Linked DNA regions of Homo sapiens: region 2 is linked to region 1. Evidence: fine-mapped expression QTL. A gene starts in region 1. The other region holds a variant in brackets. All regions are shown on one strand. Distances are between the middles of the regions.

What was found. PIP is the estimated chance that this variant, and not a neighbour inherited with it, causes the effect.
Region 2: its variant is fine-mapped to the expression of CDC42EP4 in whole blood (TOPMed, PIP above 0.99).

What each region holds. Positions count from the first base shown.
Region 1 is chr17:73,306,805-73,319,118 of GRCh38, reverse strand. It overlaps CDC42EP4 (CDC42 effector protein 4), which reads left to right and starts at 7,118. Exons shown (of 2, transcript NM_012121.5): 1 at 7,118-7,226. RefSeq lists an enhancer at 420-1,172 and silencers at 6,740-6,899, 6,970-7,229, 7,680-8,229, 8,240-8,369.
Region 2 is chr17:73,285,904-73,298,217 of GRCh38, reverse strand. CDC42EP4 (CDC42 effector protein 4) reads left to right here. Exons shown (of 2, transcript NM_012121.5): 2 at 11,606-12,314. The coding sequence starts at 11,718. Among named protein-coding and RNA genes, the nearest start is that of CDC42EP4, 20 kb to the left of the region's middle. RefSeq lists enhancers at 6,233-6,302, 5,569-6,450, 6,434-6,728, 6,703-6,782, 7,073-7,292 and 2 more. The variant T/C (reference allele first, on the strand shown) is at 7,525.

The DNA.
Region 1 (12,314 bases):
GGCTCTCAGGGGAGAGGCCTTTTCTGGATGCAAACAGAAGTGCTTTGCTTCACCTAGTCTCTTTTCTTTCCATCCCTCTAGAAACCCTGAGGGCTTCTGGCTATCACCGGCTGTTCTCCAGCAGAGCTGGGTCCCCGCCCACCCTTCCCCAGAGACAATGACATAAGGGGGGCCCCTCTGGGTGAGCCCACCAGAGCCTGAGTCCTTTATCAGAAGCCCAGGACTGCTTCTTGCAGATAATGCTGTTAATTTTTGTTTTCTGTTAGCTCAGTTCTCAGAAACACTAACAGGGATGGCCCCATTCTGTGGCAAGGATGAATGTCAGAATGAAGCTTGCTCCAGAAAGTCTAACTTCGGTCCTATTTCTTTATTTATTTATTTTTTCAGAGATAGGGTCTCACTCTGTCACCCAGGCTGGAGTGCAGTGGTGTGATCTTGTCTCACTGCAACTTCCGCCTCCCAGGTTCAAGCGATTCTCCTGCCTCAGTCTCCCTAGTACCTGAGATTACAGGCGCCCGCCAACTCCTGACCTCAAGTGATCCACGCGCCTCAGCCTCCCAAACTTAGGTCCTTTTAACTGTGAGACCAGCCAGCATCCAAGTAGTGACACCTTGGTGTGGTCCTAGCTTGGGGATGAGTTCTGACCTGCATTAGCCACCAACCCCACGCCATCAGCATGAGTGGGATCTCTTGTAGTCTCCATTGTGCAAATGAGACCAAGCCCTGGGGGAGCTCAAGGGACTTCTCAGATCACAGTGACAATTTAGATTCAAAGCCAGTATCATCTGGCCCTAGGGCCCGTGTTTCTAACCAGGACTCTCAGGCCTTTGGAGCACCAGGTGGAATCCTCTGCTCAGAGGCGTGGTTGGGCTCCCCCATTTTTGCCACGGGTCACAGTGGGTGAAGCTCTGGGCTTCAGAAATCCGGGGGTCACAGGAAACATTCTTCCCAGGGCCCCTGCTTGCAAGTTTTACTGACTTTAGTTGACTTCTCTGCTAATTTTCTCAGCAGCCCAGAGCTTTTGCTGTATCTTTCTTGCCCACTCTTTTCTCCCTGCTGGATGAACAAGAAATTTAATATCATCTCCTGCTTTCTTGGAAATGTCCCAGCTCAGTGGTCAGGAGTGGCCTGTTAATAACCTGACAATGCACAGTGACAGATTCCTGAGTGGGGTGTGGGGAGGCCTGGCTGTCTGTCTTTTCCCTGCAGAGGGAAGGAGGGAGCCACAGTACCCAGAACCCTAAAGCTCAACTTAGTAACAACCTAATAGTAGCTAGGGCCTTCCTTTAGACTTTTCAGGAAGCAAGATCACACGCCTTATCTCCTTCCATTCTTCTGATAGCCTCCTATGGCCTGAATTATTACCATGCCCCCCTTACAGGTGTGACTCAAAGCGATAAGACGACTCCTCCAAGGTCACACAACAAGTACAACCCAGGTGTTCTAAGCCCCACATCTGGACTCATTTCCTGTAAATTTCATGACCCCTCTGCTCTGCTACTGCCCCTTCACACACCTCATCCCATCTTTGAGCCTAGTTCAATCCTATTTTCACCTCCTGCCTCCAGAGAACCCCCAGCCTTGTGAACGGCGTCTCTCTGGGCCAGGGGACCTCTGACACACAGCGGCCTCCCTCACCTCCTGGGCCAATTTGTGCTGTGAACCCTTGGGAGCTGCCGTTCTGGGACGATGTGTGACCCTGTGGGCCAGTACAGCTCATTTCAGGGAAAAAGTGACCACACAGAGCTTAGTTGAGGCTGGGGTTGCAAATGGAAGAAGGGAGGGATGTGGGCTGTGAACTCTGCTCATTCATTTGTCTAGCAAATGCACTGTGTGCCAACCCACGCTGGAGGTTCAGACATGAACTGAACACCACCCTGTCCCCAGGGAGGCCAAGGGGAAATCGTATTGCTTTACTCTCTAGGCATGCACTGGCTGCCCCAGCCCCCTGATGTGCGTGAACTCCCCCAGAAAATCAGGGTTATGCCCCTGAAACCTGGGGCAGAAAGAGCCCCCAGATGCAGGTACTTTTCCCCACCATGGTGGAGGAGTCTTGTCTGGAGCCCCAGGCACTCTGCCAGTAGTTTGGTATTTTCAGGATTTTCCCAGCTGCTCAGCAGGTTGCCCCAGCCCCATGAAAGGGCTCCAGGTGGTTCCCAAGAACGGGGAAGCAAGGCGTGAAAGAGCCTCTCTCTTGCAGGCATGGGAGTGGACAGCCCAGCGCCAGGCCACCCCAGCTGATGGGCTCCTGACCTGGATCACCAAGGCTCCACCCAAACTGTGCTGACATCAAGCCATGGTGGCACCTTGAGGTTCAGTCCAGGACCATCTTGTCTCACCTCAATAGGGGAAGGGGGGCTCAAAATAGACTTGAAAGCCAGGCACGGTGGCTCACACCTATAATCCCAGTCCTTTGGGAGGCAGAGGAGGGAAGATCACTTGAAGTCAAGAGTTCGAGATCAGCCTGGCCAACAGGGTAAAACCTGCCTCTACTAAAAAAAAAAAAAAATTAGCCAGGAATTGGCTAATTGGTAGTGGGCACCTATAATCCCAGCTACTCAGGAGGCTGAGGCAGGAGAATCGCTTGAACCCAGGAGGCGGAGGCTGCAGTGAACTGAGATTGCGGACTGCACTGCAGCCTGGGCGTCAGAGCAAGAATCCTAAAAAAAAAAAAAAAAAAAAAAAAAAAAAAGGGGAATAGACATAGAAAGTTGTAGTGTTCTTGCTTGGGGAGATAGCTTATTTCACGAAGAGAAATGACCTGCCCAGAGTCATACTTTAGGACAAACACCAGACTGGAATGAGTGGAACTTCCAGCCCCTCCAAGGAAATAGGACAAATTGGCCGGGCGCGGTGGCTCACGCCTGTGATCTTGCACTTCGGGAGGCCGAGGCGGGCAAATCACGAGGTCAGGAGATCGAGACCATCCTGGCTAACGTGGTGAAATCCCGTCTCTACTAAAAATACAAAGAATTACCCGGGCGTGGTGGCGGGCGCCTGTAGTCCCAGCTACTCAGGAGGCCGAGGCAGGAGAATGGCGTGAACCTGGGAGGCAGAGCTTGCAGTGAGCCGAGATCATGCCACTGCACTCCAGCCTGGGCAACAGAGCGAGACTCCGTCTCAAAAAAAAAAAAAAAAAAAAAAAAAGGAAATAGGACTAATTAACCTCTTAGAGCTGGGACAAAATAACATGAACTAAAATGCCCAGAACTCCATGTTAACAAACACTGGGATGTGGTATGTTGGTGCAAAAAAGTAATTGCGGTTTTTGCCATTGAAAGTAATGGCAAAAACCGCAATAACTTTTGCATCTACCTAATATGTGTTGGGGGTTGGGGGTGGATATTAGGGAGGGGCAAGTCCATGAAGCTGCAAGGATCATGCATGCCCAAGTCCCAGAGGCAGGCAGGCCCCAGCGGCCCCAGACAGGCAGAGACACACGCCTAGGCCTAAAGGCTTACAGGTCAAGTTACACCAAGGGTGCAGTTAAGACCTCAAATCCCTCTCCAAAGTCAGGGGCTTAGAGCTTGCCAGAAATTTCAAGTAGGTATGTATTCAAGCCTCAGATTTTTTATTTTGTTAATTTCCTCTGGTTACTCATAGACAGCTCTAGCCTAACGGGTTGGAGCAAAACTTGCTTCAGTGGATCCTTCGGAGAGAAATCCACAGGTCTGGGATTCCCACCATCAAAGAAAATGATCTTCTAATCACATCTTCCCTCAGAGGGCTAGGATGCAGTCTAGAAGCATCTACGGAGCCCCTCCCTGAAGCAGTTTGTTTCTACTCTAGGCGTCCTGAGGGCAGGGACTGGGCTTCGTTGTCTTTGTCCCCAAAGGCAAGCCTCCACTGTTGTTAAATGTTTGTGGAAGGAGCCTGAATTTGGGTAAGGAGCAGAATTACAAAGGGACCTAAAGACTTTGTCCCGGAGGTGTGCTTAATAGATATGGATGATAATTGGGAAAAGGAAAACAGATTACTAACAGCTAGCCCTAAGAAAACCGAAATACTTCATTTAAAATGGAAGGAAAGAGATGGGGAGAGGGAGATGTCTCAGAGAAAATAAGAAACGTTTTTTTTTTGTTTTTGTTTTTAACTTAAGCTATGATTTCAGGAGAAAGAGGTCCTGGAACGCCAGGAACCAGGGAGGACTTCCACCTGGAAGCAATGTGGTAGAAGGAGACCCACTGAGGGCCTGCATATGCCCAGCAAATGGCCAGGTGCCTTTGTTTGTTTGTTTGTTTGTTTTTTGAGACAGGGTCTCCCTCTGTTACCCAGGCTAGAATGCAGTGGCATGATCTTGGCTTACTGCAGCCTCAACCTGCAGGCTCAAGTGGATTCTCCCATCTCAGCCTCCCAAATAGCTGGGACTACAGGCATGCACCACCACACCTTGCTGATTTTTGTATACTTTTGTAGAGATGGGGTTTCGCCAGGTTGCCAGGTTTCTCTTGAACTCCTGGGCTCAAGCGATCCACTGGCTTCAGCCTCCCAAAGCAGTGGGATTACAGGCATGAGCCACCGCGCCCAGCCTAAGTGATCTCTTTTAATATTCACCCCAATAGGGGAAGGTAGAGATTGCTGTTCTCACTTTACAGATGGGGAAGCTGGTGGATAACTTGTCAGCTCATAAATGGCAGAGCTAGAATTCCAATCCAGAGGCGTCTCCAAACCTCTATCCAGCGAGCCTTACCCACAGTCCTGTTGCAGCTCCTACTTCTTTTGAGGACACCTTTGGCACTAGGTCATGATGACAGCAATCACCTCCATTCTGGTTGCTTTCTAGTCATAAAGCGCTTTCACACCTGATATCTCATTCCTCTTTACACCCTCCAGACGAGGCTAGCAGAGGGGTCCTGTGCTCTTTGGACACATAAGGACAGCCAGGCTAGCTAAGGGTCAGAGGTGGGAATTAGCGACTTCCCCATGTGAAAGGGAATAGAATCTCGGGACCCCAAATTCACTATGTCAAAGGGAAAGTTTAATCCCAGCACTTTTGGAGGTTGAGGTGGGTGGATTGCTTGAGCTCAGGAGTTTGAGACCAGCCTGGGCAACATGACAGAACCCTGTCTCTACAAAAGAAAAAGTACAAAATATGTAGCTGGGCATGGTGGCGCACACCTGTAGTCTCAGCTACTCAGGAGGGTGAGGTGGGAGGATCGCTTGAGCCCAGGAGGCCAAGGCTATAGTGAGCTACGATTGCAGCACTGCACTCCAGCCTGGGCAACAGAGCAAGACCCTGTCTCCAAAAAAAAAAAAGGGGCGGGGCTGGGGGGGACGTTAAGCTTGGAAACCACAGAAGCTGCTTTCCTTTTGTTCCCAGATAGCTGCAGTTTCACAACCCTGTTGACACAGGGTTTCCTTTGCTCCCCTTAGACGTACTGAGTAGGAGACAATGCATCATTGACTTTTTCTTCTATTCCCTTTCACATGTAAAATGTAGACTTACAGACACTAAATCAGAGCCTCACACGCTTGTGACCTCAATGCCTTTCCTCCCTCTCTCCCTCTTCTTTTCCTTTCCTGCTTGCTTTTTCTCTTTTAAATACAGAAGTTCCCAAAACCTTTTTGGAAAAAAGGTGATTTTTCCCCGGTGGATCCTCAACCTTGGCTAACTAAACCTCTATTTGATTGAGATCTGCCTTAGTCACTTTTTGGTTTACATCCATGATAACCCCGCCAGGGTTTGAATCCACAGTGTCTGCCTCCCAAGTGGCTCCAAACCCTACCTTTCCCTCCAGATGTCCAGTTCAGAATTTGATTTTACTTATTATTCATTTATTTTTTTTTTTGAGATGGAGTCTACCTCTGTCACCCAGGCTAGAGTGCAATAGCGCGATCTCGGCTCACTGCAACCTCCACCTCCCAGGTTCAAGCGATTGTCCCGCCTCAGCCTCCTGGGTAGCTGGGATTACAGGCGCCCACCACCATGCCCGACTAATTTTTGTATTTTTGGTAGAGATGGGGTTTCGCCATGTTGGCCAGGCTGGTCTCAAACTTCTGACCTCAAGTGACCCCCCACCTGCCTTGGCCTCCCAAAATGCTAGGATTACAGGCATGAGCCACTGCGCCCAGCCCAGAACTTAATTTTCACAGCAGGATGGAGTGGCCAAACCATTAGCTCTCAAGAGCTGGTTGCTGTCGCACTGCAGAGGGAAACGGAAATGTGCTGTCCCCAGAAAGCAGAATGTTCCTGAGGGCTTAGGGACCTCGCAGCCATGGGGAAAGTCTGGGGCCTTCACCCTCACTTCCTTTAAAAACCGAGGGTGGGGTTCAGCTAGAGGCAAGGGAACTTTTCACTTTGCGCCTTGTCCACTTTAGTTGACTACTTCGCAGCTGGCATTCTACCTTGATAATGATCATTTCAACTGAAACTATTCCTCTAAAAAGAATAGAGTCCAAGGCCTGGGACTTGGATTCAGGCTCTGGGACTCAGGAGTTGATCCTCCTTGACGTTCACCTGGTGCAAATTTAGCCTCAGCTGATACTTAGGAGGCAAAGGCACAGACGGGGATGCGGGGAGCTCAAGGGCTGTCACCCTGTAGAAACATTTCTGACGCCCAGTCCAAGCCTGGCCTCGGGGCTGGCCGGCTCCTCCCCGCTCCCTCGTTTACAGCGAGAGTCTGGGATGGCACCCACGAAGCTGGTGGCGCCAGCCCTCCTGCCCCATCTCCCGACAGTACTGCAGCCAGGTGGTTAGCAGGTCCGGGAGGGAGCAGGAACGAGGAACGCCACCCGGGCTGGAGTTCTTGGTTTCTTGCCCCGGCTCGAATGGGGAAGAGCCTCAAAAGAGCCTCGCGCCAGGCCCCCGGAGGGAGACGCGCCCCTGGCCCTGGGGGCCCCAGTGGGGGTTCGCGGCCGGAGCGCAGGCTGGGGCGGGAGTGTCTCCCGGAAGCCGGGCGGGCCCAGGCTGCCCCATACGGAGTTGGGAAAGTCTCAGGCTTTCAGTTTGAACCGAGGAGGCCGAGCAGTCGGGCAGAGGTTCCCGACGGCCATTGGCTGCTGCGGCGCCGTGACATCAGCGCAGAGGGGTGCGCGGGGAGGGTTGCGCGGGGCGGGCGCGGGCGGAGCCTGGAAGGGGAGTGTCCTGGAGGCTCCCAGCCCTGAAAGCCCGAGAGCCAGAGGGAAACAAACGCCGGCGCTGACAGGGGCCGCCAGCCCCTCCGCCGCGCGGAGCCCACGAAGGGGACAGCGCAGCCGGCCCAGAGCTCGGGTCTCCGGGGACCGAGGTAGGCGACGGGCAACCGCCTCTGTCTGTGGTAGCCGCCTTCGCGCTGGGTGCCCTGGGTGGGCTTGGGGGTCTCGAGTCCCCCTGTGGGGCAGAGAGGATCGAAGCTGGGGATGCGAGGCCGCGGCGCGGGGAGAAGGGCGCGGAGCCCCCACTTCTCGGCGCTCGCGCTTTTCACCGCGCCCACCGCGGTGCCTGGGACCCTAAGCTGCGCACCTAGTGTCCTGGCAGAGCGGGATGTGTGGAGGAGGAGGTGGCAGGGAGCCGGGCGCAGCGTTGCCGGGACTCCATTTCCTCTCTCCACGCTGGAACTCCCGGCCCTGGCCAAGGGTGCCGCTGAGGGGGTTGGGGGCCGGTTTTAAAGGGCCTCCCCCTTCCCAGGAATGGGGTGTGTGTCGGTGTGGGCAGGAGCGCAGCAATCGGCGGCGCGCGGCCCGCGATCTCCGCGAGGGGGGCGTGTGTGCGCCCGGAGTTCTCCATGAATAAGAACCGAATTCTCCGCCTGTACGGGCAGAGGCGTGTACACATCTCGCTCTCGTACACACACTGCAGCACACGCCACCCAATGTCACCCGGCCGGGAAGCCAGAGGGAAGGAGCTGTCTGGAAGGGAATGGCCGAAGGAACAAATGGTCCTCCTTTCCCCTACTCCCGCCCCGCGAACCCTTCCCTCCCCCGCCAGGCTCCCGCCCCGCCCGCTCCCTCGGAAGCCCGGGAGGCCGAGGCGCCTCCTGGCGGGGTGCGGGGGGAGGGCAGTCGAGCCACCCGCCCCCTTGGAGCCGGGGAGACGGCCGCTCCTGGGCTAGTGCGCCCCGAGCTCAGCGCGCTCAGCGGGATCGCAGGCGGGAGCGGTCGGTTAATGATTTAATCGCCCGCTTGGGGCGGGTGCGCGCGGATCGGCCGTCCCTGGCCCCGCCCCCTCTCCGGAGCGCCCCCAGCCGGGGTTACAAAACTGCCCCCTGCCCCCGGCGCGTCCCCCAGGAGCCATCCTGCCCGCGGGGATCCCGTCAGCCGGTGAGTGCCCCGGCCGGGAGGGCTGGAGAGCTGGGCGGGAGCCGGGGCTGAGGCTGAGCCAGCTTCCTGGGAGAGGACTGAAGTGCGTGTGTGTGTGTGTGTGTGTGTGTGTGTGTGTGTGTGTGTGTGTGTGTGTGACTGGGGGAGGGGTGCTCGCTGCTAACTCAAACCAGGTTCCCTGTGTTTTCCCAGTGACTGCGGCCTCGGCTTTGGAAGTTTTCTTTTTCTCCCTGGGAGAATGGAGGGGAAATACAATGCCTTTTCTTTTCTCGTTGCCTCTGGAACTTCTCTCTCTCCACGACTCCCACCCCTTGCAATCTGACCGGCTCCCACATCCCTTACTGTGTGCCCGGTGCCCACTGTTTGCCCAGATAGCTGAGCAGCTGGATCCGGGTGGAGTCCTTGGGAGCCCCCGTCGCTGCGAAGCCCCCTGCCCTCCCCTGAGGGTCCAGGGTGCTGGAGGGAAAATCTCTCTCTCGTCCGAACCCCAGCAGCCATCTGTACCAGAGAAATGTCCCATCCAGCGAGTGTAAATAATGAGGGGCCGGTGACAGGGGCCTCCTGCAAGGCGACTTCTTTGGCAGTCTGGGTTTCCAATAACTCCCTCAGCCCCCGCCCGCTTCTGAGGCTAGGGTGGAGGAGGGACCACCAGCAGGGTGGACTGAATTTTAAGAGAACAAAGAACAGGCCACAAAGGAAGGGATTGCTGAGCTGCGGATTTCTGATTTCTCCCAGAAATCGGGAGTTGGCTGGGACTGAGCCAGGCCCTAAGAGAGCCCCTGGCAGCCCCAGGGGCTCCTGGGGCAATAACAGGGCATCCACCAGGATCTCCTGAGGCTCTATCTCTGCTGAGAAGCCAGTGCCTACTGAATGCGGGGGTGCCCTGCCGGTTCCTGCTCTCATCAACTGCCCTGTGTGAGCTGCACATGTGACTGACTGATTAGTGGGGTGGCTTATCTCCTCTGAACTTGGACTTTGCCTCTCCACTCCTTGAAGACAGCTGCTCCTTCCCACAAGGGGTGTTCAGTGAATTTGGGGAGATCCCAAGTGGATTCCCAGGCATCCTGGTGGACCCCTGCAGGGACTAGGAGGGGCCCGCTGTGATCATATGGGCGGTGGTTCTGGGGTGAGTCTCAGCGCCTCCCCTCTGAAATCTCCCTGAAGTCCTAGGGTCCCTGCACACAGAGGGCAGCTTGCTCCTGCTCTGCTGTACAGCCTAGGCCTGTGCTGTGAATGATTCTCCATTTTCTGGGGTTTCTGCCTCTCTCTTTTTGGATTCCTCTTCTCTTTTCCCCTCGTTTCTCTCTTTCCCTTGCCCACCCACCGTGCTTGTCCCCATCCTCTGTACCCTGCCTCCACTGTGCTGCTGCCTCTGGAACCCGACAGCACCTCACAGAACCAGAGACCAAGGAGTCAGAAGCAAAGGGAGGTCTCATGTATAAAGGTCAGGGGAGTGAGTGTTGACCTGGGAGAGGAATCTTACACCAGTCTTTTGATTTTAAAAATAATTTTTATTTTATTTATTAATTTTTTGAGACCAGGTCTTGCTCTGTCACCCAGGTTGTGGTGCAGCGTCATAGTCAAGGCTCACTGCAGGCTGGACCTCCTGGGCTCAAGCTATCCTCCCACTTCAGCCTCCTGAGTAGCTGGGACTACTGGCGCCCACCACCACGCCCAGCCATTTTTTGTATTTTTTGTAGAGGTGGGGTTTCACCATGTTGCCCAGGCTGGTCTTGAACTCCTGAGCTCAAGGGATCTTCCCCCACCTCGGCCTCTCAAAGTGCTGGGCATACAGGTATGAGCCACTGCACCTGGCCAACCCTTTTTTTTTTTTTTTTTTTTGGAGACAGAGCTTTGCTCTGTTGCCCAGGCTGGAGTGCAGTGGCACAATCTTGGCTCACTGCATCCTCCACCTCCCGGGTTCAAGCAATTCTCCTGCCTCAGCCTCTGCAGTAGCTGGGATTATAGGTGCATGCCACCACGCCCGGCTAATTTTTTTTTGTATTTTAGTAGAAACAGGGTTTCACTGTGTTGCCCAGGCCGGTCGCGAACTCCTGAACTCAGGCAATCCACCCACCTCGGCCTCCCCAAGAGCCGGGATTACAGGCGTAAACCACTGCACCCAGCCCTGGCCAACCCTTCTTAACAAGTCCAGAGCTTTTCCAGAAGGGCCTTGGGTTGGCAGTGGCCCAGGGCTTCCACCCCTTTGGAGTGACTGATTGATTTCTGCGGCCCGGACTGTCTGTGCGCAGGTGTGGCCAAAAGGTGTTTGATGTTGGCCTCTCCCTTTCACTCTCCCCCACCCCACGCCCCTACGTTTGGATTGGGTTCGAAGTGAAGAAGTCAGAAGTCAGAGTGGTCAGGGTTGCACTTGGTTAGCAGTAAGTCCAGCCTTCTGTGTTCTCATTCTGGTTCTGCAGACTCAGAGGAGTTTGTCCCTGTGGGGGGAGGGAGGAGTCCGTCCCTTGGAGGAATGGGGAGCTGGGTTGATGCCAGAGATAAGGCCTGTGGGCGGAGGGAGAAGGGTTGAGCAATCTCGCCCTGGAAACAGAGCTGACCTGAGCTCTGCGTAGCTCTTCTGACCTACGTACTGGAGGATTTTTCCCGACCGTGAGGAAAAGAACCAAATTCTGGAGCTGGGGACACTTTGAGGGGTCATCCGGCAGAGTGTCCTGAAGGCCAACTCCAGCCAGTGCTTCTGGGGTGCTCTAGGAAGGCCAAGCCCATGCGTGCCCTCTCTCGGCAGGGAACTGGATGGTAGTGCTGGAAGGAGCCCGCATGTGGCACTGGACACAGCCCTTTTTGCTTGAGTGCGTTGGGAAGGAAATTCAGACATTAGGGCCGGGCACAGTGGCTCACGCCTGTAATCTCAGCACTTGGGGAGGCCAAGGCGGGCAGATCACTTGAGGTCAGGAGTTTGAGATCAGCCTGGCCAATATGGTGAAACCCCGTCTCTACTAAAAATACAAAAATTAGCCGGGCATGGTGGCGTGCACCTATAATCCCAGCTACTGGGGAAGCTGAGACACAAGAATCGCTTGAACCCAAGAGGTGGAGGTTGCTGTACTCCAGCATGGGCGATAGAGTGAGACTCCATCTCAAAAAAAAAAAAAAAAAAAAGAGAGAAATTCAGGGCCAGGCGTGGTGGCTCACACCTGTAATCCCAGCACTTTGGGAGGCCAAGGCGGGTGGATCAGGAGGTCAGGAGATCGAGACCATCCTGACTAACACAGTGAAACCCTGTCTCTACTAAAAAGTACAAAAAATTAGCTAGGCTTGGTGGTGGGCGCCTGTAGTCCCAGCTACTTGGGAGGCTGAGGCAGGAGAATGGTGTGAACCCGGGAGGCGGAGCTTGCAGTGAGCCGAGATCGCGCCACTGCATTCTAGCCTGGGTGACAGAGCGAGACTCCGTCTAAAAAAAAAAAAAAAAAAAGAAAGAAAGAAAAATTCAGACATTAGTCTCCCACATTCCCGCTCACCGTGCCCCGAAAGCTCCAGCTTAAAATACGCCTTCTTGAGGAGACTTGGGCTTCCTTCCAACTAACTTACATTGGAGTCTCCCCCAGGCACTGCCAGCTTGCAGCTCTGGGCTCTGTGCCAGGATGGCAGTGCTGGCATCCAAAGCCCTCCCTTGCCAGGAACAGGGGAACTGGCTGTCTCCACTCAAGCTGAGGAAGGGTCTCTCTTTTGGGATTCAGGTGAGCACAGTTTAGGGTGTGGTCATTAATGAAGGCTTACAGTTCCCCACCTGTAAGAAACTGCTCTGCACACCTGGTGTTTCCCCTTCACCCCAAAGATGGAGCTGAAGGCATCTGGAAAAACCACAGTGCCAGGCAAGAAGGATCCCTGGATGTCTGTGCTCAGCCAGAGCTGCTTCAGCCACCATCTTCTGCCTTGGCCATCACGGTAGCAGAGGTTGTCTGGGGCAGCCTCCACCTCCCAGCATGAGACTCTGGGTTCTTCTTTTGCCCAGACACCTGCAGTTCTGGCAGTCACTGAACTTGGTCTGGAGACCCCAGCTTTGAATCTCTCCAAGTGTGCCAACAAAGCCAGGTTCTGTGTGCTGGCTTCTCTTT
Region 2 (12,314 bases), 21 kb after region 1:
GGGGTGATTTTGAGGGAGGAAGAGAGAGAACAGACATCAGTGGGAGATTTTCACGCAAGAGAGGCAGAGTACGGATGGAGACCAGTTCTCACTCAGTCCTCAGTTGGCATCTTATGCTGGGATGTGGCTGCCGAACCCAGAGAACTAGATAGTCTTAAGCTGGTTTTGAAATGAATGCTTTTTCTTTAAGCCTTTGATACTTTGGGTTTTTTTTTTTTTTTCGCTGTTGTTGTTTGTTTGTTTGTTTTAAAAAGAAAAAGGCCAGGTGCGGTGGCTCACACCTGTAATCCCAGCACTTTGGGAGGCTGAGGCGGGTGGATTGCTTGAGGTCAGGAGTTCAAGACCAGCCTGGTCAACATGGGGAAACCCCGTCTTTACTGAAAATATAAAAATTAACTGGCCGTCATGGTGTGCACCTGTAATCCCAGCTACTTGGGAGGCTGAGGCAGGAGAATTGCTTGAACCTAGGAGTTGGAGGTTGCAGTGAGCTGAGATGGTGCCACTACACTCCAGCCTGGGCGATAGAGCAAAACTCCATCTCAAAAATAAATAAATAAATAAATAAACAAAAAGAAAAAGAGGCTGTTTTCCTCTCAAGGCTAACATAACTTCTTAATTTCTCCATGTGCCCTTTTAGTCTTTATTCACAGATGCATATTTGTGTAGAGTTGTAACCACTATACATAAACAAGTATATGTTCTGCCTGTTTTTCTATTTATTTTAAATTTTTATTTATTTTTTTTGAGACAGAGTCTCACTCTATTGCCCAAGCTGGAGTGCAATGGCGTGATCTCAGCTCACTGCAACCTCCGCCTCCCGGGTTCAAGAGATTCTCCTGCCTCAGCCTCCCGTGTAGCTGGGATTACAGGCACGCGCCACAACACCTGGCTAATTTGTGTGTGTGTGTTTTTTTTTTTTTTTGGAGACGAAGTCTTGCTCTTGTCCCCCAGGCTGGAGTGCAATGGCGCGACCTTGGCTCACAGCAACCTCCGCCTCCCGGGTTCAAGTGATTCTCCTGCCTCCGCCTCCCAAGTAGCTGGGATTACAGGCGCCTGCCACCACACCTGGCTAATTTTTGTATTTTTAGTAGAGATGGGGTTTCACCATGTTGGCCAGGCTGGTCTTGAACTCCTGACCTCGGGTGATCTGCCCACCTCGGCCTCCCAAAGTGCTGGGATTACAGGTGTGAGCCACGGCGCTTGGCCTTGTGTATTTTTTTTTTTTTTTTTTTTTTTTGAGACGGAGTCTTGCTCTTTCGCCCAGGCCAGACTGCAGTGGCGCTATCTCGGCTCACTGCAAGCTCCGCCTCCCGGGTTCACGCCATTCTCCTGCCTCAGCCTCCCGAGTAGCTGGGACTACAGGCCCCCCTCACCGCGCCTGGCTAATTTTTTGTATTTTAGTAGAGATGGGGTTTCACCATGTTAGCCAGGATGGTCTCTATCTCCTGACCTTGTGATCCACCCTCCTCGGCCTCCCAAAGTGCTGGGATTACAGGCGTGAGCCACCGTGCCCAGCCGTGTATTTTTTTAAAAGTAGAGACGGGGTTTCAACAAGTTGGCCAGGCTGGTACTGCACTCCTGACCTTCGCCTTGGCCTCTGTTCTGCCTTTTGTTTGCACTTCCATTTAATGCCATTTGGTAAACATTTGGTCCATGTTGTCTATGGTCTTCATAGTTCCCACTTTCCATGACTGCTGAATGGTGCTCTGAGTTAATGGCTCCCAGCTTTCTTAGCCATTCCATTCCTCCATCACTGGGCATTAGGCTGTCTGTCTCCAGTCTTTTTTTTTTTTTTTTTTTGAGATGGAGTCTCCCTCTGTTGCCCAGGCTGGAGTGCAATGGCGTGATCTCGGCTCACTGCAACCTCTGCCTCCCAGGTTCAAGCCATTCTCCTGCCTCAGCCTCCTGAGTAGCTGGGATTACAGGCGCACACCACCAGGCCCAGCTAATTTTATTTTTTTATGTATTTTTTAATTTTTTTTTTTTTTGTATTTTTAGTAGAGACAGGGTTTCGCCATATTGGTCAGGCTGGTCTCAAACTCCTGACGTCGTGGTCCACCCGCCTCGGCCTCCCAAAGTGCTGGGATTACAGGCGTGAGCCACTGCGACTAGCCTGTCTCCAGTCTTTCGCTATTATGAATAAGGCTTCAACAAATACGTGTGTGACTTTTTTCGCCTTTGAAATAGTTCCACAGGGTTAAGTTCTAGGAGGTAAATCATATTCATTTAAATCACATTCATTTTAAAGCCATTATTTGAGGAAACTGAATCATATTCATTTTAAAACCATCATTCTTTTTTTTTTTTTTTTGGAGATGGAGTTTCACTCTTGTCGCCTGGGCTGGAGTGCAATGGCATGATCTCAGTGTGCTGCAACCTCTGCCTCCCAGGTTCAAGCAGTTCTCCTGCCTCAGCCTCCCTAGTAGCTGGGATTACAGGCACCCGCCACCATGCCTGGCTAATTTCTTTGTATTATTAGTTGAGATGGGGTTTCACCATGTTGGCCAGGCTGGTCTCAAACTCCTGACCTCAGGTGATCCACCTACCTCAGCCTCCCAAAGTGCTGGGATTACAGGCATGAGCCACCACACCTGGCCAAAACCATCATTTATTTTAAAGCCATTATTTGAAGAAATTTTGCTGGAGTTTCATGTACCGCAAGACCACCCCACCCTGGGACCATTTTGACTCTGAGCAGCTCTTGGATCAGAGTTTTGTAATGTTCCCCCTGCCTGGTGGCACCTAGTACCAATTGCTCAGTGGGAGGAAGGTCCTTCCCTCTTCTCTTTCCCAGCTCTTAATTTGGGCAAGATGGTAGCAAACATCAGAAGGTTGTCCTAGTGCCTGGCGGTGAGCCCATTGAGGTGTTATCTGGGGAAGATCTTTGGGGTGGGAGTCAAGAGACTTGGGCTCCAGCACCGCCCGGCTCCCTTGTGAGTTCTGTGGCCTTTGGCAAGTCACCTCTCCTGGTCCCAACAGCCTAATCAAGACCACTGGGTTGGATCCTCTCCCAGATGTCTACCATCTCTCAATCTCAGTGGGAGTCATGTGACACAGTGGGTGCTGCATTTTAGCACCCCAAGGAGTACATAAGAAAATCCACTGGGGCCAGGCGCAATGGCTCAAGCCTGTAATCCCAGCACTTTGGGAGGCCGAGGCAGGTGGATCCCCTGAGGTCAGGAGTTTGAGACCAACTTGGCCAACATGGTGGAACCCCGTCTCTACTAAAAAAAATACAAAAATTAGCCGGGTGTGGTAGCAGGTGCCTGTAATCCCAGCTACTCAGGAGGCTAAGGCAGGAGAATTGCCTGAATCTGGGAGGTGGAGGTACAGTGAGCCAAGAGTGCACCATTACATTCCAGCATGGGCAACAAGAGCGAAACTCTGTCTCAAAAAAAAGAAAGAAAAAGAAAATCCACTGGGATTTAGAAAGAACACACCAAAACTTGTGCACATGCGTGTGTGTGTGTGGTGTGTGTGTGTAAACTAAAACTTACTAATGCGTGGAATGACAATAGACATGAATATAACCTATAAAAATATATATGTGTGTAGATATATACACATATATGTATATACACAAATTACATATTCAGTGTTTGTCCTGTGATGCCCCCTACTTTTGATAGTACATTGCTGTTTAAGTGAATGGAGCCCTGGGGTGGGAATTAAACTCTGGCTTCAATCCATGACCTAGGGCAAGTCCCTTAATTTGGTCTTTCCATCTTGAAAGTATGATCCCTCCACACCCAGGTATTTTAAGGAGATATTTGACACAGATACATAAATGGTACAGGAGTCCTGATGGTGACATTTCATGTTCCCATCCTGGGTTTGTTTTTTTGTTTCTTTGTTTGTTTTTTTTTGAGACAGAATCTTGCTCTGTCACCCAGGCTGGAATGCAGTGGCGCGATCTCAGCTCACTGCAACCTCCACCTCCTGGGTTCAAGCGATTCTCCCTGCCTCAGCCTCCTGAATAACTGGGACTACAGGTGCACACCACCATGCCTGGCTGATTTCTGTGTTTTTAGTGGAGATGGGGTTTCACCATGTTGGCCAGGCTGGTCTCGAACTCCTGACCTCAGGAGATCCACCCGCCTCAGCCTCCCAAAGTGCTGGGATTACAGGTGTGAGCCACCACGCCCGGCCTTGTGTTTGGTTTTTGATTGTGGTTACTTAGGCTCAGAATATTACAGCAGTGAGCCTTAACCTCCTTGCGCACGCAGCACACTTCCAGATGCAAGGGCTTTTGAGCAGGGCACATGAAGGAGTTAAAAGATCCCCAAGAATACTAAAGTCAGCTAAAATCACAACACAGTCGGCATTGAAGTCCTGCCTGGAACATGTAACCACGTGTATCTAAGCGGTCACTGTTCTCGCCCATTCACTTAGCTGCCCTCAGCCCTGCCACAGTTTGAATGAAACACAGTCTTCCGCCTTCCCTGTGCTTTCCTATCTTTGCAGGGTAAGGCTGGTGAGTGTTCCAGAAAGTACTGGATTTTTCTCTGGTGACTAAAGCCAGAGTCCCTCACCTCTTAGAGTTGTGGCCCATGTCCCAGTGAGCCTCTTGCACAACCCCCTCCAGCGTGCTGTTCCATCTGACAAGCCTTGTGTAGCAGAATGCCACCTGTGTTTCGGCAAAGTGAAGTTCCGCCTAGGGGTAGGATGTCAGCCCCTCCTGTGAGAAGGGGCCGTGGCCTGCCAGGCAAAACCTGGGAAAGGATGGCCAGGACCAGAGGCTGCCCCTGGAAGGCCTGGAGTCCCATTTGATCCTGTCTTTTCTCTCCTCCCTGGTCTGGGCCCTCCACAATCCCGGGTGTCTCTACCTCCAAAACATGGCCTAAATGTCTCCCACTGTGTCCCCCTTCGCCAGACCCACATCCTGGTCTCCATCCTCTTTGACCTGCATTTCTGCAACAGCCTCCTGACTGAATTCCAGCTCCCCTCCTTCATTCCTCCAATGCCAGGACCTCCGGGAGCTTCCAGATACACAGATTGAATCACTCGCCTGCTTACAAACAGCCGCCGGTTTCCTTGTACACCTATAATGACCTCCAAACTCCTTACCTGGGCTGGGTGCGGTGGCTCATGCCTGTAATGCCAGAACTTTGGGAGGCCAAGGCGGGTGGATTGCTTGATGCCAGGAGTTCGAGACCAGCCTGGCCGACGTGGTGAAACCCCATCTCTAAAAACATAAAAAAATCGGCCAGGAGCAGTGGCTCCTGTAATCCCAGCACTTTGGGAGGCCGAGGCGGGCAGATCACCTGAAGTCAGGAGTTCAGGACCAGCCTAGCCAACATGGTGAAACCTGGTCTCTCCAAAAAATTCAAAAATTAACTGGGCATGATGGCAGGTGCCTGTAATAAAAACTAAAAACAAAACAGAACTCTTTATGTGGCCTGGTAGGGAGGGCTCTATGTAACCTGGGCCCTGGCTGCATGGATTTTTATTCTATTCCATAAATGCCACAAGCCTGTTCCTATACCCCGGCGTTTGCACGCGCCGTTCCCTCTGCCTGGGTCGCTTCTGACCCGGCTGGTTCCTTCTCATCATTTGGTTCTCAACTCATGATGCTCCTTCCTCAAGAGGGGCCTCCCCCAGACCCCCTGACTCCCACACCCACTCATACCACCCCTTTCCCTCCTTATACTGAGGAATATGAGATACCATTTATTTTATTTATAGGTTTACACCTCCATTCCCCACCCCCACCCCCCACACTCACACTACACACGTGCCCTGGGAAAACAGCGTGCTATTTTCACTGCTCTATCTCCAGGGCCTAGAAGAGTTTGTGAATATCAGTGGGTCTGCAGGAAGTCATGGAGTGAGTGACTGGATGATGAGTAATGGAACAAAGCCTCTTGTAGCCGATCCAGGTCACAACTAAAGTCATCGTGCACTAAAAGCCCTCTGCTATTCGGCCACATTGCCTGGACCTGGCATCGGGTGGTTGGTTAGAACAGCTAGGGGAAGGCCCTGCAGAGGGCATGCTGCCCAGCAGCAGTGGCGGAGGCAGTGGCAGTGGGCATTGAGGCATGTTGTGTACCCTGTATACCGGGGTGAACCGCAGGGCAGCTTCAGAGAGCGAGGCCTGCCTAGCTGCCCCATGAGAGCTCAGGTCTGGCGCCTGCCTCAAGCCAAGCTGCCAGGGACAGGCCACTGCCCGGTCACTTGGAGTGAGAAGTGTTGGTCCCGTCTGTCCTTCTGCTCTGGGTCTGCTGGGCTGGCCAAGCTGGGAGGGCCAGGGAGGATAGGCGAGGGGTCCAGGCAAGGGTGGTCTTCCGTAGTCTCAGGAACAGGGCTGAACTAAAGGTGTGGTTGCTGTGACCCAAGCAGGGGCCTGACCTTCTGGGGAGGGCTCCTCGTTCCCACCTTAAAGGAAGGTTCCGTGGTCAGTGGGCTGAGGGTAGAGGAATCTGTTCCTCCGGAGGCTCAGGAGAGCTAGGGAGGGCTGTGAGCTGTGATCCATTTTCCCTCTCCCTGCCAAGAAAGTGGGATGTGGTTTCTGGGGTGGGGTGGGGGTGTCCCGCCCAAGGCAGGCTATGGGGAGTGCCTGCCCCACGTTGGGCAGCCTATTTTAGCCACTTCCCCAGAGCTGAGTCACCATGCTTCTGAAAGCCCCGCCCAAAGCCACAATGCCCTGTGGCCTCCCAAACCATAGCTGCCCCCAGGACCTGCCCAGGCCTCTGGCGAGACTCCCACCACCTACTTTCTCTTAAACTCTATGATCCAGCTCGTCACCTCCAAACTGTTCTCTGTTAGAAGCTCAGAGTGACTCAAGGTCACTCAAGGCTGGTGAAACCAAGCTGTTGCTGACCCTCAATCCTGCTGGGTGGCCTGTCTAGTCTGAGCTCCAGACACCCAGGCCTCATCCCCAGTGTGGACTGCCAGGTACTGCAGCCCCCTCCTCGCTGGGGCAGTGGGACAGATGCGTGACTCCCTCTAGGCCCCAACTCTCTCAGGACCCTTCCTTGCTGGTTATTGAAGATGGCTTTCTACAAGCCACAAAGTCTCGTTCCCAACCCCCCAGGAAGCGAGACCGTGGCAGCAGGCAGCACTGGGTAGACCTGTCCCTGTCTTTCTGGGGTGTGGGGTTGAACAAGATCCTGGGGACCCCAGGGCTAGCCCAGGATGGCCGTGATTTCAGCTGAGTTTCCCTGCTGTCCCCTCTGACCTACCTCAATAGTTCTACCCGCAAGGATGTGCTGGGTGGTGTGGCTAATGGGATGCGGGGAGCTGTCCTCCCCTGTAGCCATCATGGCCAGGATATTTGGTCCCTTTGGGCAGCCACAGTGACCTGCAGCTTCTCTGGTGAGTCCTGGGGAGCCGGGTCTGTGGTTTCCCTTTCTTTCCTCTCTAATGAGCGTATAAGATCGGGAAACCACAGGACCTGACATCACTCACAGGGTCTGGGGGTTCCTGCCTTGGCGTTGAAACCCTTAACGCAGCTCTGGGGGCTCGTGCCGCCATGTTCTCACCCGGTTCTGACCATCCACACCCGCCTCCCTGCTTCTCTGTCTT[T/C]GTTGTTTACCTGGTGAGCATACCTGCTCTATCTTCACCTGTGTGTTCTCACTCAAGGCTGCTGTTTCTCAACTGGGGCAGTTTTGCCTCCTGGGGGACATTGGGCAATATCTTGAGACAGTTTTGCTTGTTGTGACTGGGGGGTGGATGCTACTGGCATCTAATGGGTAGAGACCAGGGATGCTGCTGAATATCCTACAGTGCACAGGGCAGGTCCACCTCCCGATGAGAAATTATCTGGCCCAAATAGCAACAGTGTGGAACCTGCTCTAGGATTACACAAGAACCTTCTTGAAGCAGCTGTTGGGTACCCCCTTCTCTGTACCCTGCCGGCCAGCAGTGGGGAGGAGCACTCAGTGGTCGGTGGTCACTGACCAGCAATGCCGCCGCCAGAGCTGGAGAAGGGCCTGGAGTGGAGCGGAGAGAGCTCTGGACTCAAAGACCCAGTTTCTAGCCCAGCTCTGTTGCTTTGGGCTAAAAACCTGGATAAATCACTTTCCTTCAATAAACTTGTTTCCTCATCCATAAAGTGAAAGTGCTGCACTGAATATCCCCTCCAGTTCTTTGAGATTCCTGGATGCTGTGCGTAGAGCCAGGAGTCGGGGTGCAGGCAGGTGGAAGATGGGGTCCCCTCCGTTCCTGACTGGTGTCCCTGCTGGTGGCAGTAGAAGCCTGAAGGATTTGCCAGGAACGAGAGTTCGTTTGAAGCTTGGCCTTTTTCCCTTCTATGCCCAACGTGACTGAGGCAGAGTCTACCTTCTCTTTTTCTTTTTCTTTTCTTCTGCTGCTTCTTTTTCTCTTTCTTTCCTTCCTTGCTTTTCTTTTCCTTTCTTCCTTTCTTCTCTTCCTTTCCTTTCCTTCTTTCCTTTCTTTTTCTTTCTCTCTTTCTTTTTTTCTTTCCTTATTTCCTTTCCTTCCTTCCTTTCCTTCCCCTCCCTTCCTCCCTCCCTTCCTCCCTCCCTCCCTTCCTCCCTTCCTGTTTTCTTCAGAGTTTTGCCTAGGAGCCCATGGCTGGCCAAGAGGGTCATATATGATATTCAGGAGTCAGCAAACTACAGTCCATGGGCCAAACCCAGCCTGCGTTTGCTTTTGTAAATAAAGATGTGGCTTTTTGGTGGTTTTTTTTCTTTTACTGGTTTATTACAAAAGATACGACTCAGGAACAGCCAAACGGAAGAGCTGCATGAGGATGCGTGGGGTCAAGTGTTGGGGTGGGGGGCAGGGCACGCACCACCTTCCTGGCACCTCGATCTGCTCACCAACCCAGAAGTTGTCTGTAAATAAAATGTTATTGGAACATAGCCATGCCTACTTGTTTACATGTTGCTATGGCTCCTTTCTTTCTTTTTTTGATTTTGTGTAGAGATGGGGTCTCACCGTGTTGCCCAGGCTGGTCTGGAACTCCTGGGCTCAACTGATCCTCCTGCCGTAGCCTCCCAGAGTGCTGGGATTACAGTTGTGACCCACTGTGCCCGGCCAACGGCTAGTTTTATACTAAGAAGACAGTTGAGTAGCTGTGACAAAAACCCTATCAGCCACAAGGCCGAGAATATTTACTCTCTGGCCCTTTGCAAAAAGTGTTTGCTGACCTTTGGTCTAGCGGTTCAATGTCTAATTGTTTAGAGGTTGAGGTGGGGCAGGAGGGTGGGGCCCAGAGATAATCCAAGTTAGAGTTAGGGGAAGGTCACTTTCCTAAGGGTAGGGAGGAGAGAGAGCTGACCTATGACCCAGAGTAGAGTATCATCTCAAGGCATCCCTCACGTCCTCGCCCACGTCACTGTGTGGCAAGTCTGCCAGGTGCCTGGCTCCCCCTCCCTGCCCGAGAGAACTTTGTGTTTGCTGGAATGATAAGCGGTATGGCGTGGGCACTGGGAGGGGGGACATTGCTGGTGGGGGAAGCCATGAGGCTGGGCAGCAGAGGCTTGAGAGAACAGGGAAGCGGATGGGGGTGAGGATGCAGAGAGGTCAGGCTGGGAGCCCTGGAGCCAGGCTGTGGGCAGAAGGGGAGGAGAGGAGGGAGGTGCTGGACTTCCAGTGGGTGCTTGGAGGCGGTTGGAGGCGGACCATGTGTCACACCCTGCTGGACCAGACTCGGTGGTAAACAGACCTGTTAAAACCCTCTGGATGGACCAGGCGCGGTGGCTCACGCTGATCCCACGTCCTGATCCCAGCACTGGGAGGCCGAGGTGGGTGGATCACCTGAGGTCAGGAGTTCGAGACCAGCCTGACCAACATGGTGAAACTCCATCTCTATCTCTACTAAAATTACAAAAAAAAAAAAAAAATAGCTGGACGTGGTGGTGTGCACCTGTAAATCTCAGCTACTCAGGAGACTGAGGCAAGAGAATCGCTAGAACCCGGGAGGCAGAAGTTGCAGTGAGCCAAGATCATGCCATTACACTCCGGCCTGGGGGACAGGGCGAGAATCTGCCTCAAAACCCTAGAAGTTTGTACTGCAGTGGGAAGATGAGAGTCCAGCCAGCAGGGACAGAATAATGTAGCCAGTATCTGCTGGAAGAGGGGACATCTCCCAAAGTGCCGTGGGGGGCAGGTGGTGGCTAAAGGTTTCCTGGGAGTAGTGATGTGTCCCAGCTGAGCCCTGAAGGATGCTGGGTGTGGCAGGGGTTGCATTGGGGAACTGTTTGTATCCACTGCAGCTCAGGGGATAGATCAGGGTACAAAAGTAGGGGACACTGAGGAGCGAGGTGGGGACTAGTCATTGGATCAAGGGGTCTGCACTGGGTAGGGCGTCATGTGGATGGGTTTTGTTTTAGCCAAGAGGTGAAGGATGGACAGGAGGGAGACCAACAGGGAGACCTGTCAGGCTGATGTCAGGGGCCAGGTGGGGTGTGGTGGGCTTGTGTGACGCAGCGGCAGGCATGCGGAGGAAGCACCCAGCATCTGAGTTTTGCAGTGGGAAGAGTGGGTCTGGACTGGGGGTGCCTCTCAGAACTGTGCTGCTGGCTGGACTGGGAGGCAGGCAGGTACCTGGTGTCCAAGCATCACCTCTCACCCACCATACTTTGTTAAATCCCTGCACCCATCTCTCCCCAACCTGCCCAGCTCTGCTGGGCTTAGTATTTGGGGCAAGCCCCTCTAGGGAAGAGAGGGGCTGGTTTGGCCCCAATGCTGAACTTCAACTTGGCCCTTGTCAGGAGCTGTGAGAGTGGTGCCTCCAGGCTCCTGGGCTCTACCTCTGCTGTTTTTTGGATTTCTGGTGAATCACCTAGGAATCAGTCTGCAGATCCTGGGGGGACGAAGTCATTTAGGGTCCAGTCCCTGCCTCCCACTCCCCTAATGATGAAAGAAACTGGAAGTTGCCCAATCTTGATCTCCCCGAGACACCAGAAGGTGGACCCTCAGCAAAGAGCCTGGGGCTCCACAGTGGAGACGTCACAGGCGGGATCCTCATTTATGGGATACCAAGCGAAGGCTGAAAGGCTGGGGAGCTGGTTCTGTGGGTCCCAGCAGCCCCACCCCAGTTCTGATTCAGAAAGAGGACTGTGCCGCCCACGCAGGGGGAGGAGCTGGTCAGCCTCTGTCTCCCTGAGCCCGTCCTGTCCTTTCCCTTCTCTCTCTGAGGACCAGGACTCAGGGTGGGGTGTCCACTAACTCCACAGGGATCGAGGTTAGACAGCAGGAAGAACTTACAGCACATCTCCAGGCTGACTGTTCATAGGAGCCAACTCATAGACTCCATCTCTTCCCTGGCTTGCTGCCTGGAATTGCTGGATTTACCTTCGCGTCCTTAAATGTGGTCATGTTTACTCTGGCAGCATCCTGGCTTGCAGGGGCAGGGGAGGCATTGTCTTCTGCAAGAAAGGTTCTGTCTCTCTCAAGTTTCAGGGAAAGTGTGTCCGAGGCTACTGGAACTCTAACCAGATTTGCAAAATCACTCCTCTACTCTGAATGCCTGCGGATGAAGAAACAGGCAGGGTTATACCATGGATTGCTGGCTTATTTCACAGCATTTAACTTTGGTAGGAGCGCTGGGGTTTAAATGACAGTCCCCTGGCAAAGAGGCTTTTGTGCCGTGTGGCCAGCCCGCGTTAATCCTTTGCCTCTCATTCTCTGCTTGCAGCCTTATGATCTCCTCATTGCGTCCCCCTCTGCCCACTGGACTTGGACTTCAGATCTGACCCCAGACCTGCCGGCTACCTCGGGAGGGCCCACCTCCCCGCCCATCCAGCAAGATGCCAATCCTCAAGCAACTGGTGTCCAGCTCGGTGCACTCCAAGCGCCGTTCCCGAGCGGACCTCACGGCCGAGATGATCAGCGCCCCGCTGGGCGACTTCCGCCACACCATGCACGTTGGCCGGGCCGGAGACGCCTTTGGGGACACCTCCTTCCTCAATAGCAAGGCTGGCGAGCCCGACGGCGAGTCCTTGGACGAACAGCCCTCTTCTTCATCTTCCAAACGCAGTCTCCTGTCCAGGAAGTTCCGGGGCAGCAAGCGGTCACAGTCGGTGACCAGGGGGGAGCGGGAGCAGCGTGACATGCTGGGCTCCCTGCGGGACTCGGCCCTGTTTGTCAAGAATGCCATGTCCCTGCCCCAGCTCAATGAGAAGGAGGCCGCGGAGAAGGGCACCAGTAAGCTGCCCAAGAGCCTGTCATCCAGCCCCGTGAAGAAGGCCAATGACGGGGAGGGCGGCGATGAGGAGGCGGGCACGGAGGAGGCAGTGCCCCGTCGGAATGGGGCCGCGGGTCCACATTCCCCTGACCCCCTCCTCGATGAGCAGGCCTTTGGGGATCTGACAGATCTGCCTGTCGTGCCCAAGGCCACGTACGGG